Linked DNA regions of Homo sapiens. The protein of the gene in region 1 interacts with the protein of each later gene in a pairwise test. Each region holds a gene or a part of one and is shown in the gene's direction. Other genes may lie near its edges.

Region 1 (3,652 bases):
TTGTCTTTTTTCAGAGTGTGAGGAGCACAACAGCCTCAAGGAAATGGTCCTGATGGAGGGGCTGTGCTCTGAGCAGGGACGCCGGGGCTCAACACTGGCTAGTTCCTCTGAGAGGAAGCCCTTGGAGAACCAGCTAGGGAAGCAGGAAGAGTTCCGGGTATATGGAAAGTCAGAAAACATCTTGGTCCTACGAAAGGACATCAAAGATCTGAAGGCCCAGCTGCAGAATGCCAACAAGGTCATTCAAAACCTCAAGAGCCGGGTCCGGTCCCTCTCAGTTACAAGTGATTATTCGTCTAGTCTGGAAAGACCCCGGAAGCTGAGAGCTGTTGGCACCTTGGAGGGGTCTTCACCTCATAGTGTCCCTGATGAGGATGAGGGGTGGCTGTCTGATGGCACTGGGGCTTTCTACTCTCCAGGGCTTCAGGCCAAAAAGGACCTGGAGAGTCTCATCCAGAGAGTATCCCAGCTGGAGGCCCAGCTCCCAAAAAATGGACTAGAAGAGAAGCTGGCTGAGGAGCTGAGATCAGCCTCGTGGCCTGGGTAAGGATGGCACTGTTTGGGTACTTTCTTGATTGAAAATGTGTAAGTTCATGCTTGGCGTAGGGTAGCTCAGGCAGTTGGAAGAAAGAACATGTCTGGGTATTCACAGGGACACTGATTTAAATGGTAGATACAGGTCTGCAGAAAAGACAGGTAGGCAACCAGGAGGGCATAGGATGATGTTCCAGTATCTGGGAGATACCGGGTCTCAGGGATTTCCTCTTAGGGATATATTAGTAAAGATGGTATAGTATAGTAGTAATACTGGAATCAGACTACCTACCTCTGGTGCTTACTACCCATGCAACCTTCTTAACCTTTCTGAGCCTTTGTCCTTACCTATTAAATGAGGATGATAAGAGAACCCATCTCAAAGGGTGGATATTAGGTTTAAATGAATTAATACAACTGCTGACCAGGCGTGGTGGCTCATGCCTGTAATCCCAGCACTTTGGGAGGCCAAGGCAGGTAGAACACCTGAGGTCAGGTGTTCGAGACCAGCCTACCCAACACGGTGAAACCCCATCTCTACTAAAAATACAAAGATTAGCTGGGCATGGTGGTGCACACCTGTAATCCCAGCTATTCGGGAGGCTGAGGCAGGAGAATCGCTTGAACCTGGCAGGTGGAGGTTGCAGTGAGCCGAGATGGCACCACTGCACTCCAGCCTGGGTGACAGAGCAAGAGTCTGTCTCGGAAAAAAAAAAAAAAGAATTAATACAAGTGCTTAGAATAGTGCCTAGCATATGTTAAGCTCTCAATGCTATTTGCCATAGTTATAAGTGTTATTGATACTTAGTGTTGAAAACACAGACATTCATCTTGGTGTGTCCTGGTTATCTATTGCTAAGTAATAACCACTCTAAAACTTAGTGACTTCAAACAACACTTTATTATGCTTCATGGTTCTATGGTTTGACTGGGCTCAGCTGGGTGGTTCTCACTTAGGGTCTCTTGTTTTGGGTCCCATCAGTTGATGGTATGAGCGTTTAAATGATGGCCATCATTGCAAAATGTAGTCAGCCACAGTATCGTAACATAGAAGAAATTCAGGCATCAGGTGGTGGTTAAAACAGAAGGCATGAAAGGTTCTATCTAGACTTAGGATGAAATGATGCTAATTATTCATTGAGTAACTGCTGTGAATCTATGTGATACTGGTGCTGTAAGGGATGTAAAATGCAGAACTATGTTTATTCTCACAGACCTTATGATTTATCTAGGGACATATAATTAACACATGTATAACAGTTGAAGAACAGTGACATACTAAATTTTTTTTTGATACGGAGTCACTCTGTCATCCAGGCTGGAGTGCAGTGGTGCCGTCTTGGCTAACTACAACCTCCACCTCCTAGGTTCAAGCAATTCTCCTGCCTCAGCCTCCCGAGTAGCTGGGATTACAGGCATGTGCCACTATGCTCAGCTCATTTTTTTTGTATTTTTAGTAGAGGCAGGGTTTCACCATATTGGCGAGGCTGGTCTCAAACTCCTGACCTTGTGATCTGCCTGCCTTGGCCTCCCAAAGTGCTGGGATTACAGGCGTGAGCTACCACGCCCGGCCCGTACTAAGTTTTTTAATGCAATACTTTATCAGGGTAGAATTTACTCTTAAATACCTCCTATGGCTTATGTGCCAGAATTCAGCTTGGGGGAGTTCCTTAGAGATGTTCTCATAGAAATCTCTACAGAAGCCCCCATAACTCCATAAGTTAGCTTCCACTCTTTCCATACTTACACTTTCCTCTTCTGTCCTGCATTAGGAAATATGATTCCCTGATTCAGGATCAGGCCCGGGAACTGTCTTACCTACGGCAAAAAATACGAGAAGGGAGAGGTATTTGTTATCTTATCACCCGGCATGCAAAAGATACAGTAAAATCTTTTGAGGATCTCCTAAGGAGCAATGACATTGACTACTACCTGGGACAGAGCTTCCGGGAGCAACTCGCCCAGGGAAGCCAGCTGACAGAGAGGCTCACCAGCAAACTCAGCACCAGTAAGTTGGCCACAGGGCTTTGGAATACTCTCAGTCACCCCCACAGTTCCAGCCCCTGGTGGCCACCACATCTCCACTGCAACTTTTTATCCTAAGGTCCTGTTTCTATTTCATTTCCTGGGGCTAATACAGGATCAAGACTGCTCAGTGGGGAGCATGGAGAGGAAAACACAGGGCTGGAGATGCCATGGTTACAACTATAGAAACTTCACCACTAATGGAATGTGACCTGTGGGGCAGGGGCAGCATCTCTCTGATGCTAAGAGGGAGTAGGGGACATGAGATGGAAGGGCTTTGTTATAGGAGGAAGAGCCCTGAACCAAGAACTACAAGACTCAAGCTCTGGCCTGGATGCTGCCACCAACTCGCTAAATGCCTTATCCTTGTGGTGTCTCCATTTATGGCATGGTAATGTGCATGCAGGTACTCCACATATGGATAAAGCGCCATGCTCTTTTATACATGGTTTAGGCACTGGCTGCAGTAGTTCAAGGGCTACATTGGTTATTATTGGGGTCTTCTACTCAGAATTTCCAGCGACTATCCAAGGGAGTAAAGTAGGATCAGACTTGGGAGCCACCCAGCCCACCACCTGGTGGCAGATGCAGAGGTGGGGCAGGGCTTCTTGTCATCTCCTCAGAGACCAGTGCAGGTTCTGCATGAAAGCTGTGGTGGGGCATATGCATTGGGGAGCTAGTCTGCAGCAGGACATGGAGGCTGGAGTGTCCCGCAGGGCAGCTGGGCAAGGGCCTCATGATTAATGGAACAAAAGACATTATAAATGTTTTACCCTGATTTAGGGCAGAGGAAGTCATCATGGTGACCGGCAGGTCAGGGACAGTGGGGTCACTTCTCTAGAGACACAAGCTGAGGTATCCCAGAATAACTGTTCTGGATGCACACATGAAATGCTCACTACTCTGTCTCCAGATAGGCTCCTGCATTTGTAATGCGGGAAGTGGGACCAGCCTAATTTCTTATCGTCTCTTTCTAAATTTGGTTTACAGAGGATCATAAAAGTGAGAAAGATCAAGCTGGACTTGAGCCACTGGCCCTCAGGTAATTCAGAGGAGAATCTGGGAAAGAGATTGGGACCGAGGCCCAAAGGGT
Region 2 (3,596 bases), on another chromosome or scaffold:
TTCTTTGCTGTGTGCCTTTGAGCACGTGGCCTAACATCTCTGTGCCTCAGTTTCATCATCTTTAAAATAGGAATAAAAATCATATCTATCTGAGCTGGGCTCTATGGCATGTGCCTATAGCCCCAGCTACTTGGGAGGCTGAGACAGCAGGACCGCTTGAGCCCAGGAGTTCAAAACCGGACAACATCGTGATATCCTTTTTCAAGAAAAAAAAAAATCACATCTACCTCTAAGGGTTATTGTGATAATTCAGTGGGTTATTATTTGTAATATATAGCATATTTAAACCTTGCCACTGGGACAGGCACAGTGGCTCACACCTGTAATCCCAGCACTTTGGGAAGCCGAGATGGCTCACCTGAATCTAGGAGTTCAAGACCAGCTTGGTCAATATCATTAAGACTCCATCTCTATACAATTTTTTTGTAATAAATTTATATTATATTAAAACACATTTTTTTAAAACCCAAAAGGCTCATAAGGTAAGGTGATTGGCCTTACCTCCTGTCACAGAGCAATCACGTGGGACAGCTCTGGAACTCAGAGCTCTGGGCATCACTCCAGCCATCTCTGCCTGTTGCACCCTTTCAGGCTGCCTGGGCCTGGCTCTGAGATTGGCCAGGGCAGAGGACACGCACGCCCTTCCCTGGCCCAGTCAGCTGCCCACCTAGCTGGGGCCTGGGAGCTGACTCCTGCTGGGTCCTCTCTTGCCCCAGAGCTGGAGATGGCCAAAGCCCGGAACCAACTGGATGCTGTCTTGCAGTGTCTGCTGGAGAAGAGTCACATGGACAGGTAGGCCAGCGTGGGGTCACAGGGCCGGGCACCCTGGTGGGTTGGGCCCTCTGATCCTGGGTGGATTGGGTGGGACCCCACAGGCTGACTTGGGGAGGAAGGTGCTTAATGGGGAGGCTGCTCGGTGCCTTCCTTCTCTGGGGCCCTGGAACCCTGAGCTGAGAGATCTCTTCTGCCTCTAGGGAGCGTCTGGATGAGGAAGCTGGGAAAACACCCTCAGACACCCACAATAAGTGAGTTTTTCTGATTGGATTTGGAGTTGAGAGTTCGTGGTTGGTAACTTCTTTCCTTATCCAAGCCCTGACCGCTCAGCCCAGCGCTACCTCCATCGTGGCCCGGACCACTCCACCTGTACAAAGACCCTGTGGCAGGAGAAGCTTAGGTCCCCCCGTGGTTGCCACCTAGACCCCCATGGGTATGGGTGGGACAAAAGGCCCAAGAGGCAAGTGGGGTTCATGTGAGCATCTCAGGTTTGATACCAGTATCCCCAGGGTGCCCTCTGCAGGGTTTTGCACAGGCGTTTGTCTGAGGGTCAACTGTCTTTCCCCACAGGGACTGCTCCATCGCAGCCACTGGCAAAAGGTAAGGTGGCAGGGTCCCAGCCAGCTGACTAGAGGCTCCCAGCTCCTACCCCAGTCCTGACACTCCCTCTCCCTACGCAGGCCATCTGCCCGCTTCCCCCACCAGCGGAGGAAGAAGAGGAGGGAGATGGATGATGGGCTGGCTGAGGGAGGGCCGCAGCGATCCAGTGAGTAGACAGTGGCCCTAGAGGGTCGGTAAGGAGCCAAGGGCCTATGCAAGGATGCTCACACACCTCCCATCCCCACCTTCCCAGACACATATGTGATCAAGCTGTTCGACCGGAGCGTGGACTTGGCCCAGTTCAGCGAGAACACGCCACTGTACCCAATCTGCCGCGCCTGGATGCGCAACAGCCCCTCTGTGCGCGAGCGTGAATGCTCTCCCAGCTCACCCCTGCCCCCGCTGCCTGAGGATGAGGAGGTGGGATGGGTAGTGGGTCCCAGCCCAGCAGCCTGGTGCCAGGGCAGTGGGTGGATAGGCTCAAAGGATCCTGCCCCTAAGCTAGTGGGATAGACAGACACAGGTCCCTCACGTGAATCCTGGATCAGGCTAGGCACACAGATGTGCACTCTTAGGTTGGGGTGTGGATCAGAGTCCCTAGGGAAGACATACGTAACCACCTGGCCTGGGAGACAGGGAACAGGGTTACCCTGGACAGTTAGATGTGGACCTCCAAGATCAGGGGTTCCCAAGAGCCGAGGGGCTAGACAAGGGTCCTTAGTACAGACAGAAGTGGCCACCAGGCCTTGAGGAGCAGGGGCTGGGCAGGAATGGATGGGAGTCTATAAGCCATCTGACCCAGCGGGGTAGACAAGGGTCCCCAGGACAGACATATAGGACCCTTCAGACATATAGGACTGTCAGAAATGGACAGAGCTTCCTAGGTGGCACAGACGTGACCCCCTAGACAGGATTCCCTGAGGCAGGCAGACGCGACTCCCTGGGCTGACAGGTGTAGATGGAGTCTCTGGGCTGGATAGGAGAAGACAGGGGTCCCTGGGGCAGGCACACTTGACCCGCTGGCTGGTTGAGGTGTCTGCCCTTCATACATGCCTCCTGTCTGAGTCCCTTAGCGAGCCCCTCATGCCATTTGTTGCTGGGAAAGGCAGGAGGGATGAATGTGGATTCCCAGCCCCTCTGCTTTGACTCTCTTGGGCCTGGCATGGGGCCCTTGTGTCCCCAGGGCTCAGAGGTAACCAACAGCAAGAGTCGTGATGTGTACAAGCTGCCGCCACCCACACCCCCGGGGCCACCCGGAGATGCCTGCAGATCCCGCATCCCATCTCCACTGCAGCCTGAGATGCAGGGCACCCCTGACGATGAGGTGAGTATGCCAGGCTGGCCCAGGGTTATGGGGCACATGCGGTAGGGCTCAGGAATGGCCACTCAACCTGGCCTGTCTGTCCATGCAGCCCTCTGAGCCCGAGCCCTCACCCTCCACACTCATCTATCGCAACATGCAGCGCTGGAAACGCATCCGCCAGAGGTGAGCGTCCCCCAGCCTGCTTGCCCCTCGTAGGGCCCTTTGCAACTGCTGAGTCTCCCCTCTGCCTCCCCAGGTGGAAGGAGGCCTCTCATCGGAACCAGCTTCGTTACTCAGAAAGCATGAAGATCCTACGAGAGATGTACGAACGACAGTGATGTTCCCAGGTCCCCCCACACCAGTAAACATCCCCCAGCTCCACACTGGTGTCTGCTCCGGTCCCTCCTTCCTGGCCCAGGCACAAAGCAGTTGGCAGAGCTCTAGCACATTTATTGGGAGAGTAAGCCTGGGAAAGACTAAGGGAGTGGTGGCAGGGAGAAAGGCTGTGGGGAATCAGAGCGGGTGCTCAGTTGGGTCTTGAAGGAGAAGAGGAGGAGGGTGGGAGGTGGGTTGCCGAGGATATCTGGTTGAAGACTTGGGGGTCAAGACAAAGGGACTTAGGGGGATGGGGTCTGGTTAGAGTTGGGGAGGGGGCCTAGGACATCCGTGCAGAGTCTGGGGAGGTTGGGGTGGGAGAGTCTGTACAGTTTGGTGTTGGGTGTTCTAGTTGGCCTGGTGTCCAAGAGTTGGGGCAGTCGAAAAAGGGTTCCAGAGTCTGGTGTGGCTGGCTGGGGTTTCACGGCAGAAAATGGGCTGGAGGGGGCAGTTGTAGACTGTCTGGTTGCAGGGGAAGGATCGGGTCTTGGGAACCAGGCCTGGATGGTCTGGAGTGGGAGGTCTGTGCAGTCCAGGACGTTTG

The links. The genes of interacting proteins can lie anywhere in the genome.
Region 2: the proteins of PDE4DIP (region 1) and LIN37 interact in binary tests that used the Homo sapiens proteins (3 or more experiments, as listed by UniProt).

The regions. Positions count from the first base shown.
Region 1 is NC_000001.11:149,004,895-149,008,546, forward strand, and holds part of PDE4DIP (myomegalin), read left to right. Parts: intron 1-14; coding exon 15-543; intron 544-2,306; coding exon 2,307-2,542; intron 2,543-3,549; coding exon 3,550-3,601; intron 3,602-3,652. UniProt on the Homo sapiens protein: Functions as an anchor sequestering components of the cAMP-dependent pathway to Golgi and/or centrosomes.
Region 2 is NC_000019.10:35,751,460-35,755,055, forward strand, and holds the end of LIN37 (protein lin-37 homolog), read left to right. Parts: intron 1-716; coding exon 717-792; intron 793-974; coding exon 975-1,025; intron 1,026-1,344; coding exon 1,345-1,374; intron 1,375-1,454; coding exon 1,455-1,540; intron 1,541-1,627; coding exon 1,628-1,794; intron 1,795-2,557; coding exon 2,558-2,698; intron 2,699-2,786; coding exon 2,787-2,860; intron 2,861-2,933; coding exon 2,934-3,015; 3' UTR 3,016-3,060; downstream 3,061-3,596.